Linked DNA regions of Homo sapiens. The protein of the gene in region 2 purifies or fractionates together with the protein of the main gene of each other region. This does not show direct contact. Each region holds a gene or a part of one and is shown on either strand. Other genes may lie near its edges. The genes, in order: PPP2R2B and MACIR.

Region 1 (3,829 bases), about 43 Mb from region 2:
GGATGAGTTTTAAGTTCTCTCTTGCTCCAAGCTCTAGAGGTTGCTCATGTATACATCTCACTTTATTCTTTCCTCTAGTAGAAAAAGGTCCCTCTGGTTTGCCTAAGAAGACTTTTTTTCTGTGCAACAAAACATAAATACAGCATACCTTCATAGTAGACATTCTTTTTCTTTAAATGCTGTCAATTGGAGGCAGATAGGAGCTACCCAGACCTTAGGTATGGTGGAGAAATAATGGTTCAGACTAGGTTTTCCCTTGAATCTATCCCAACTTCTATCTTTCAAGAATTATTTACAGAGTTCTCAGCAATGTCATTCCTGCTAATGGGCGTGACTTCCAAAGCACACATGTTTTGACACTTATAGAAACACTGCAGGTGAGTAATAAGACAAAATGCCGAAGGTGAATGGTGACAGATGAGGAAAGGTTCATCACAAAGCAGACATATGGAACTAGACCTTAAAAACCTTGCCACTGCCCAGTTTATATACCTTTACTGCTGTGCCCCCTAGTGAAGGTGAATGAGTTAGTTTATAGCAGAGATGCCTCTGTAAGGGCAGGACACAGCCTCACCCTTGCAGCCCCCAAATGCACCTAACAATGCCAAGAGCACTGCTGTAGGGGTATTCCCTTGTCACCAAAGCACTGAAGCTGTTACCCTGACAAGGCCTGGAACTGTTTGGAAGTGAGAGAGTAAAGGTGGGGGAAAATTAATTTGCAGAGTTAGAAATAACTTCCTCTGTCCAAATAACTCAGAGCTTTTCAAATACCCAGAACATCTAATGGAACATAGGATGAGCCTGACCTCGTTCCTTTGCCCAAGACTAAGAGCCTGAAGCTCTGCATCCAGCAGAACTGTTGGAGTCGAAGGAAGAGAAAGAGCCGCAGTTGCAGGAAAAAAGAGATCGAATCATCACTCTTAACTTAAACACCAATGCCCTTGGTAGCCTCCCTCTGCTTTCACACAGTTCTATCTCCTTCTCTCTCAGCCTCACTTGAGTTCATTATCACAGCTCCTGTCAAGGACTGAGGACCCACCAGAGCAAGCTGGAGGCAGGTTGCTAGTGCAGCTCAGAGTGTGCACTCCAGAGCCTGATACCGGGGCTCAGTTCCCTCCCCTTCTGTCACTTTTTCTGTGTGATCTTGGACAAATGATGTCATATCTCTGTGCTTCATGCTCCATTAAAGTAAAGAGAATGAAAGTACCTACATCATAAGATGGCTTTAGAGATGAAATGAGGTTTTGACAGATAAAGCACCTGGCTAATAATGACAAGCCAGCATATTGGGTATGCCCGTTATTATTGCCACTCCGTGCTAGTGGGTTCAGGAAGGATTACCTTCAAAACAGAGAACCCAGGCTACTACTCTCTGAACCTTATTCATCTATTTGGCATCTACAGCTGAGTTGCTGAATGTAGCTGGAGAAAAATATTCAACTATGCTTGATGAGCCTTATTTGACATACATGTCCAACAACGTCAAGTGTCCCCTGGTGCCTTCCAGAAATCTGACACTGTTTCTCAACCCTTTCTCTCTCCTGCTCACTCTTAGTTGATAACCATGCTGGCTGCTTTCACTGGAAAAGAGAAACCAGGAAAGAATCGCCACATACTCCAGGACAGCACCTTTCACCTCAGAGTCTACTCGACAGCTCCACATGTAGACATCTCTAAACCATTGTACCCAAAAGTGAACATGGTACCTACTCCTTCCACTTGCTCAGGAGAAAGATCAGGGAGTCATCTTTGACTCCTGTTTTTCTCTCCACACCTCAGAGTTGACCCAAGTCCTATCTGCTCTTTCCCTAAACAAAAGGAGAATCTGACCAGTCCCCATCACTGCTCATGCCCTGGTCCAGGCCAGAATCTATCACTCAGGTTATAACTGGTCTCCCTCCCTTTGCCTTTGCACCCTTAGGATCCATTGCAACACAGCAGATTCAGCAATCCTTTCTGTGAGGTCTCTTCTTCCTCAGAATAAAGGGCCTATGTAAACTGATCATCCTCTCCCCCAGCTGCTTACTCACTCCTCTCCCACCACACTCCCTCCAGGATTCCTGCCTCTAGGCCTTTATGTTTGCTGTTTCCTATGCTTGGAGAGCCTTCCCCTCACCCCAAACCCAGACATCACTGTGGCTCATTCATCTCCTGCAGGCTTCTGCTCCAGTGCTACCTCATCCAGTGAAGCCCTGACTACTTGCCCTGTATAAAATAATACACCCCCGACAAGATCTCCCAGGCTCTTTTTCCATACACTTTTGTTCTATGATTTTATCACCATCTAAACATCTTATTTATTTACTTGGTTATATAATCTGTCACCTGACACTGGGTCAAAAGCACTGCAAGGATATTTGGCTCACTGCTGCATCTCAAGTGCGTAGTAGGTATTCAGTAAATATTTGTTGAATAAAAGACTGCATGAATGGTGATCTCTAATGCCTGTGAGCAAATCAGCTTAGAAAATGAGAATCTACCACTTATTTAGTCTTACTGGATGCCACTGTCTATACAAGCAAGCTTGATTAATCCATATCATCTACATGAGAAGCTCATCAACCCATCCTAATGTCCTACAGCTAAAAGGGCCAAGCCTAGGTTCAGATCCAAGGCCATCTGATTCAAAGAGCATGTACAATGAAAGATTTAACAGCTCACATCAGAAGAGGAGGTGTTTGCAGAAATAATTACTGTTTAAAATAATAACTGACCTTCTCGATATGTTTCCTCTCCAGGTTCATGACTACCTCCGCAGCAAGCTGTGTTCCCTCTATGAAAATGACTGCATTTTTGATAAATTTGAGTGTGTGTGGAATGGGTCAGACAGGTAAGAAAGGCTCTGTGGCTGAAGAACCTTCCAAAGATTGTCTTGAAGAGGCTCAGGGAATTTATCCTAAGTAGAGTACAGCCAAAGGGAGGTCAAAATTGGGCCCCAAAACCTGGCTGAAATGCATAATGTGGGCCCCTAGTGACCCTTGAAGTCAAGGCTGGAAAGAAGAGAAGGATGTAGTAAGGCCTTTGAATCCTGTTTCTGAACTGGCACAGATAACACCTTAATGTTAATAAGAAAGTCCTATCTTTTTCACACAAGACACCTCCAGCACTAGGTCAACATGCCTAAATGAAGATCACTTATCCACCAGCAAATTCCAGCCTGAACAGTTCAGATTAATGCCAAGTAGGCTTTCCAGATCAAAAATTATCCCTTGAAGCTGCTAGTGGAGACCTGGCCAACGGCCCTGGTAGTTCATTAACTGAATTCTAGTCAACCTCATTTATCACATTCCCTCAAAGTGATTTATTACTATTTTAAGGCCTTTGATTTGAACAGTGCTTCATAATACCTCCCAATAGTTCATTTTTAGTTTGACAAATACAAATGATTCTCTGATTTCCATGAGAACTAAGTGCAAGCTACCAGGGGCTGATTTCGTTCCTTGATGAAGGTGGCACCAATAATAGTGTTTGAAAGCATAGAAATTCTGTTATGGCAAGACATTCAGAGATTCAAGCTTTCAGTGAATATGAACTGTCTCTCTCTCACACTCCACCTGTTTCTTGGCTTTCTTTGCCACTGATCCAAAATGAATCCCCTCCTTAGCAGGCTTGGAAGGAGTCTCCACGTGGCAAAGGACCCAAGTCACACTGACCAGTTGGTATAGGACAGAGAGCAAAGCAACTGTGACATAAGAACAAAATCCACCATGGGAAAAAGAAGCCAGCCCTCTCATTTTATTATTTATTTATAGGTATTTATTTATTCATATATTATTATTTACATATCTGTTATTATTGCTCAAGTTTTTCCTCTATCTTAGCCTTGATT
Region 2 (3,829 bases):
CATGTTGTGCTTCTAGCATGTGGTTCCCAAACTTGTCTACACCAGAATCATGCAAGGAGCTTCAAAAACTGCTGATGTCTGTTTTCCATCCCAGATTTGTGATTTAACTGATCTGGGGTGTAGCCTGGGTTCTGCAAGTTGTAAAAGATTCCCAGGTGATTCTAATATGCATATAGGTTTGGGAACTTGTCAGATAGAACTTATCAGATAGAAGAGTTTCACTCTTTTAAGTCCCTCCTTTGTTTTTAATCAGTAATTACTGTATAGTCATGTTGGTGAACATAATTTTTGGCTGCTTATAATTGCTAACAACCTACCCCTAGGCCTTCTAATTTACTGTTCCTAATCCTCTGTGGGCTGGAAATATCTGCTAACCAAACGTGTTAAAACTGCATATAAAATAAAAATAAATCTGTGCTGAATGAGAATCGGGCTCCTTCATCTGCACACACTTTGGCGTAGTTATTTTAGCTACTTAGAAGCCTTTGTCAGGTGCAGCTACGTTAGAGAACAGTTTGGCATTTACTTATAAAATTGAATAAATGTTCATTAAACAACACAGCCACCATACTCATAGATATCTAACCCAAGAAAAATGAAAATACACGTCCATACAAACACCTGAATGTGAATATTTATGACAGCTTCATTCACAAACACCGAAACTGGAAACAATCCAAATATCCATCAACAGGGAAAGAGATAAACAAACTGCAGTCCATCCCTACAATGGATACCACTCAGCAATGAAGTGGAACAATCTGGGGAAACATTAAGTGAAAGAAGCAGACATTACACCTATATACTACATGTTTCTACTTACGTGGCATTCTGGAAAAGGCAAAACTATTTGCCAGAATCAATCATTAATTGCCAAGGCCTAGGGTGGGGAGAGGGGATAACTACAAAGGGGAAAAAGGGAATTTTGGGGGGTGATGAAAATGTTCTATTTGTTGACTGTAGTGGTCATTACATAACTGGATACATTTGTCAAAATGCATCAAACCGTACACTTTAAAAGGACGGATTTTACTAAGTTATAATAAACCTGACATTAAAAATAAATGAACTCTTTGTCACATATTTCCACGTTTCAGATGGTCCTCCAAATTTTAAATTTTTTTGTACCGTATAATTTTGGAATCAAAAGGAATCTTAATAGTTTCCCAGTGTATGTTTGAACACCTTCAGTGACAGGCAACTCACTGCCTCCCAAGATGACTCATTTCACCTTGTGCAGCTCTGCTAGAATGTCGATTTATTTACACATATATCTGTATGTACATGCATATATACAGTCAACCCTGTCTCCACGGGTTCTGCATCCATGGATTCAACCAATCACAGAGAGAAAATATTTGAAAAAGCAAAAAATTACATCTACACTGAATATGTATAGACTGTTTTCTTGTCATTATTCCCTAAATAATACAGTACAGCCACTATTTATGTAACATTTACATTGTAATAGGTATTATAAGTAATCTACAGATTATTTAAAGTATACAAGAGGATGTGCATAGGTTATAGGCAAATACTATACCATTTTTGTATCAGAGACTTACGTATCATCAGATTTTGGTACCTGGGGGAAGTCCTGGAACCAATCCCCCAAGGATGCCAAGGGACAACTGTATAAATATAGGTATATACAGAGATAGATGGATAGACATAGATACACATACATTCCTGTAGTTTCTACCCATTGCTCTAGTTTTGTGCTTTATTTCTATTAGCTGAGTCAGTGACCAGGCCACATTGTTTTTTATTCAATATCCTCTCCAAGTACTTTGTACTATGGTTTTCAAACTTCTTACTCTTTTCCTCAAAACTGAAAATTTTAGTAACGTTTCCAATTTTCCAATGTTCGAAAATGCATTTTCATAAATGTAATAGGTTTTATCTACTTAATGAGATTAAAGTATTTGTTTTTCCCTACCATTCCTTTGAATCATTCTGCTGCTGACTAGAAATTTAGAAATCACTTATTATGAAACTCCGCTTTCTCTAAGGATTATGATCTCTTTACATAATTCAAGGCAAGGATGCACAAAGATAATGGCCAAGTAGAATGACACACCAAAGCATGAAGTCACACTAATATAGTCTTAAGGATGCTAAAGAGCTACCATAGCTCATTATGAATTTCTTTTTTCCCTTCAAAGACTTCGAGACACATGGACAACTATGTCAGCAAAGATACACAGATGACACACTGAAAAAAGACAACTAAAGGAAGAAAACAGCATTGCATATTTTTAACCGTTTAAATTCAGGGTGTGATAAAAAGAATGTCACATTTTCAGTGAACTGCTGTACGACTAAGTGAAAATAATGCTCCTTTCAGACACCTGTTGGCTCATTCTTTATGTATGATAATATATAACCAGAATTTTTTGCAAATTATTTCAGCAATGTTTGGAGATTAATGTTTTTACTAAAATTTGCCCCAAATTGGAACAGTTACCTCTAACTACTATACTTTGAAATATTATTTCATAAGATCTTTACGTTGAAGAAATTTAAAGGAAGGAAAACTTAGCCAAACATTTCAAATAAAATAATGTTTGCATATTGCAACAATAAGTTCATTTCTCACCATTAAAAATTTGTAATTATAGTATACATATTTGCAATAATACACCAACATTTCACATTCACTTGATTAACTGACATTTCACATTCACTTGTTTATTTATGTAGTCTTTAAAAAACACATTATGGTATTGTGTTCATACAACTGTTAACGAACGGAAAAAGCAAAATATAACTTACCAGACTAAATCCCAGAAGATGTCACTGTACAATTTCCAATGAGTCCCAAGGGAACACAGACATAATAATTTTTCTGTTCTACTCCAGGTACTAAACATGAAATACAAAAATAAACCTTTAATTTAACAAGTAACACAACTTATAACATGATATCAATTCTAACTGCAAAAGAGAATAAAACTAGCAGGAGGTAGTAACATCAAGTATAGGTTATATAGGACCCAATAATTAATTAATTCAATTGATGTTGAGTTTGTTCACCTAAATGCATCCTCAAACATTTTATCATGTGTATTTCTCTGTACTCTGTTACTTAAATTCTACCTAGAGACTAGGAGTACCTAACTGGGCTAAATAAAGAGACAAGAAAAAGTAAGGTAATAAGTATTGGTTTCACCATCCTAGTCCTATTCATGTGTTCAACCGATTCACAGTACTCTATGGAAAAAAAATAATGCTTAGGCTAGGATCAAAAGCACAGGCCATAGTTCCTAGCTCTGGCCTTGCCAAGAACTCTGCCTCTTGACCCTGCATAAATATCAATCTCTAAAATGTGGACCGTAATAACCCCCCTTCCTCCCTAATACAGTTGTTAGATGGATCAAATGAAATGAGGTAGGTGAATGCTTTACATGCTGCAAAGCTCTTTACAACGTGTGATGCTATTATTATGCAATTAATTTTTGGTATCGACTCATTGTAGCCATAAAGCAGCAACAATGTAAATCTTTCATAAGACTGATGCGAGGCAAATGATTAGAAGTCTCTTGGATAACACAACAAAAAAAGAGAGTGACTGAAAAAGCACTTTTTTATAGTTACCACCTTACTTAAGGTTTCTAGCATCTCCTCTGTGCCTTCCCTCTCTTACCTGGGAAGTTAATGTGTAAGAGAATCTATCTTTATCTCCTACCTCCCTAGTTAATAGGGTTAATTTGCTGAGACGAGGAAAACCCTCCAAAGTCCTTTTCCACCTGTAAAAGTTTCTTTGGTTGTTGGTTTTCTGTTGGGTTAAACAACAGAAGCAGTTGGAGGGGTGTCAAATGAAGCGAGT

Evidence for each region.
Region 1: the proteins of MACIR (region 2) and PPP2R2B purify together in Homo sapiens (co-immunoprecipitation; one large-scale study listed by IntAct). This does not show direct contact.

Annotation. Positions count from the first base shown.
Region 1 is NC_000005.10:146,591,972-146,595,800, reverse strand, and holds part of PPP2R2B (serine/threonine-protein phosphatase 2A 55 kDa regulatory subunit B beta isoform), read left to right. Parts: intron 1-2,738; coding exon 2,739-2,830; intron 2,831-3,829. UniProt on the Homo sapiens protein: The B regulatory subunit might modulate substrate selectivity and catalytic activity, and might also direct the localization of the catalytic enzyme to a particular subcellular compartment.
Region 2 is NC_000005.10:103,264,944-103,268,772, reverse strand, and holds part of MACIR (macrophage immunometabolism regulator), read right to left. Parts: intron 2,866-3,829; 5' UTR 2,776-2,865; intron 1-2,775. UniProt on the Homo sapiens protein: Regulates the macrophage function, by enhancing the resolution of inflammation and wound repair functions mediated by M2 macrophages. The regulation of macrophage function is, due at least in part, to its ability to inhibit glycolysis.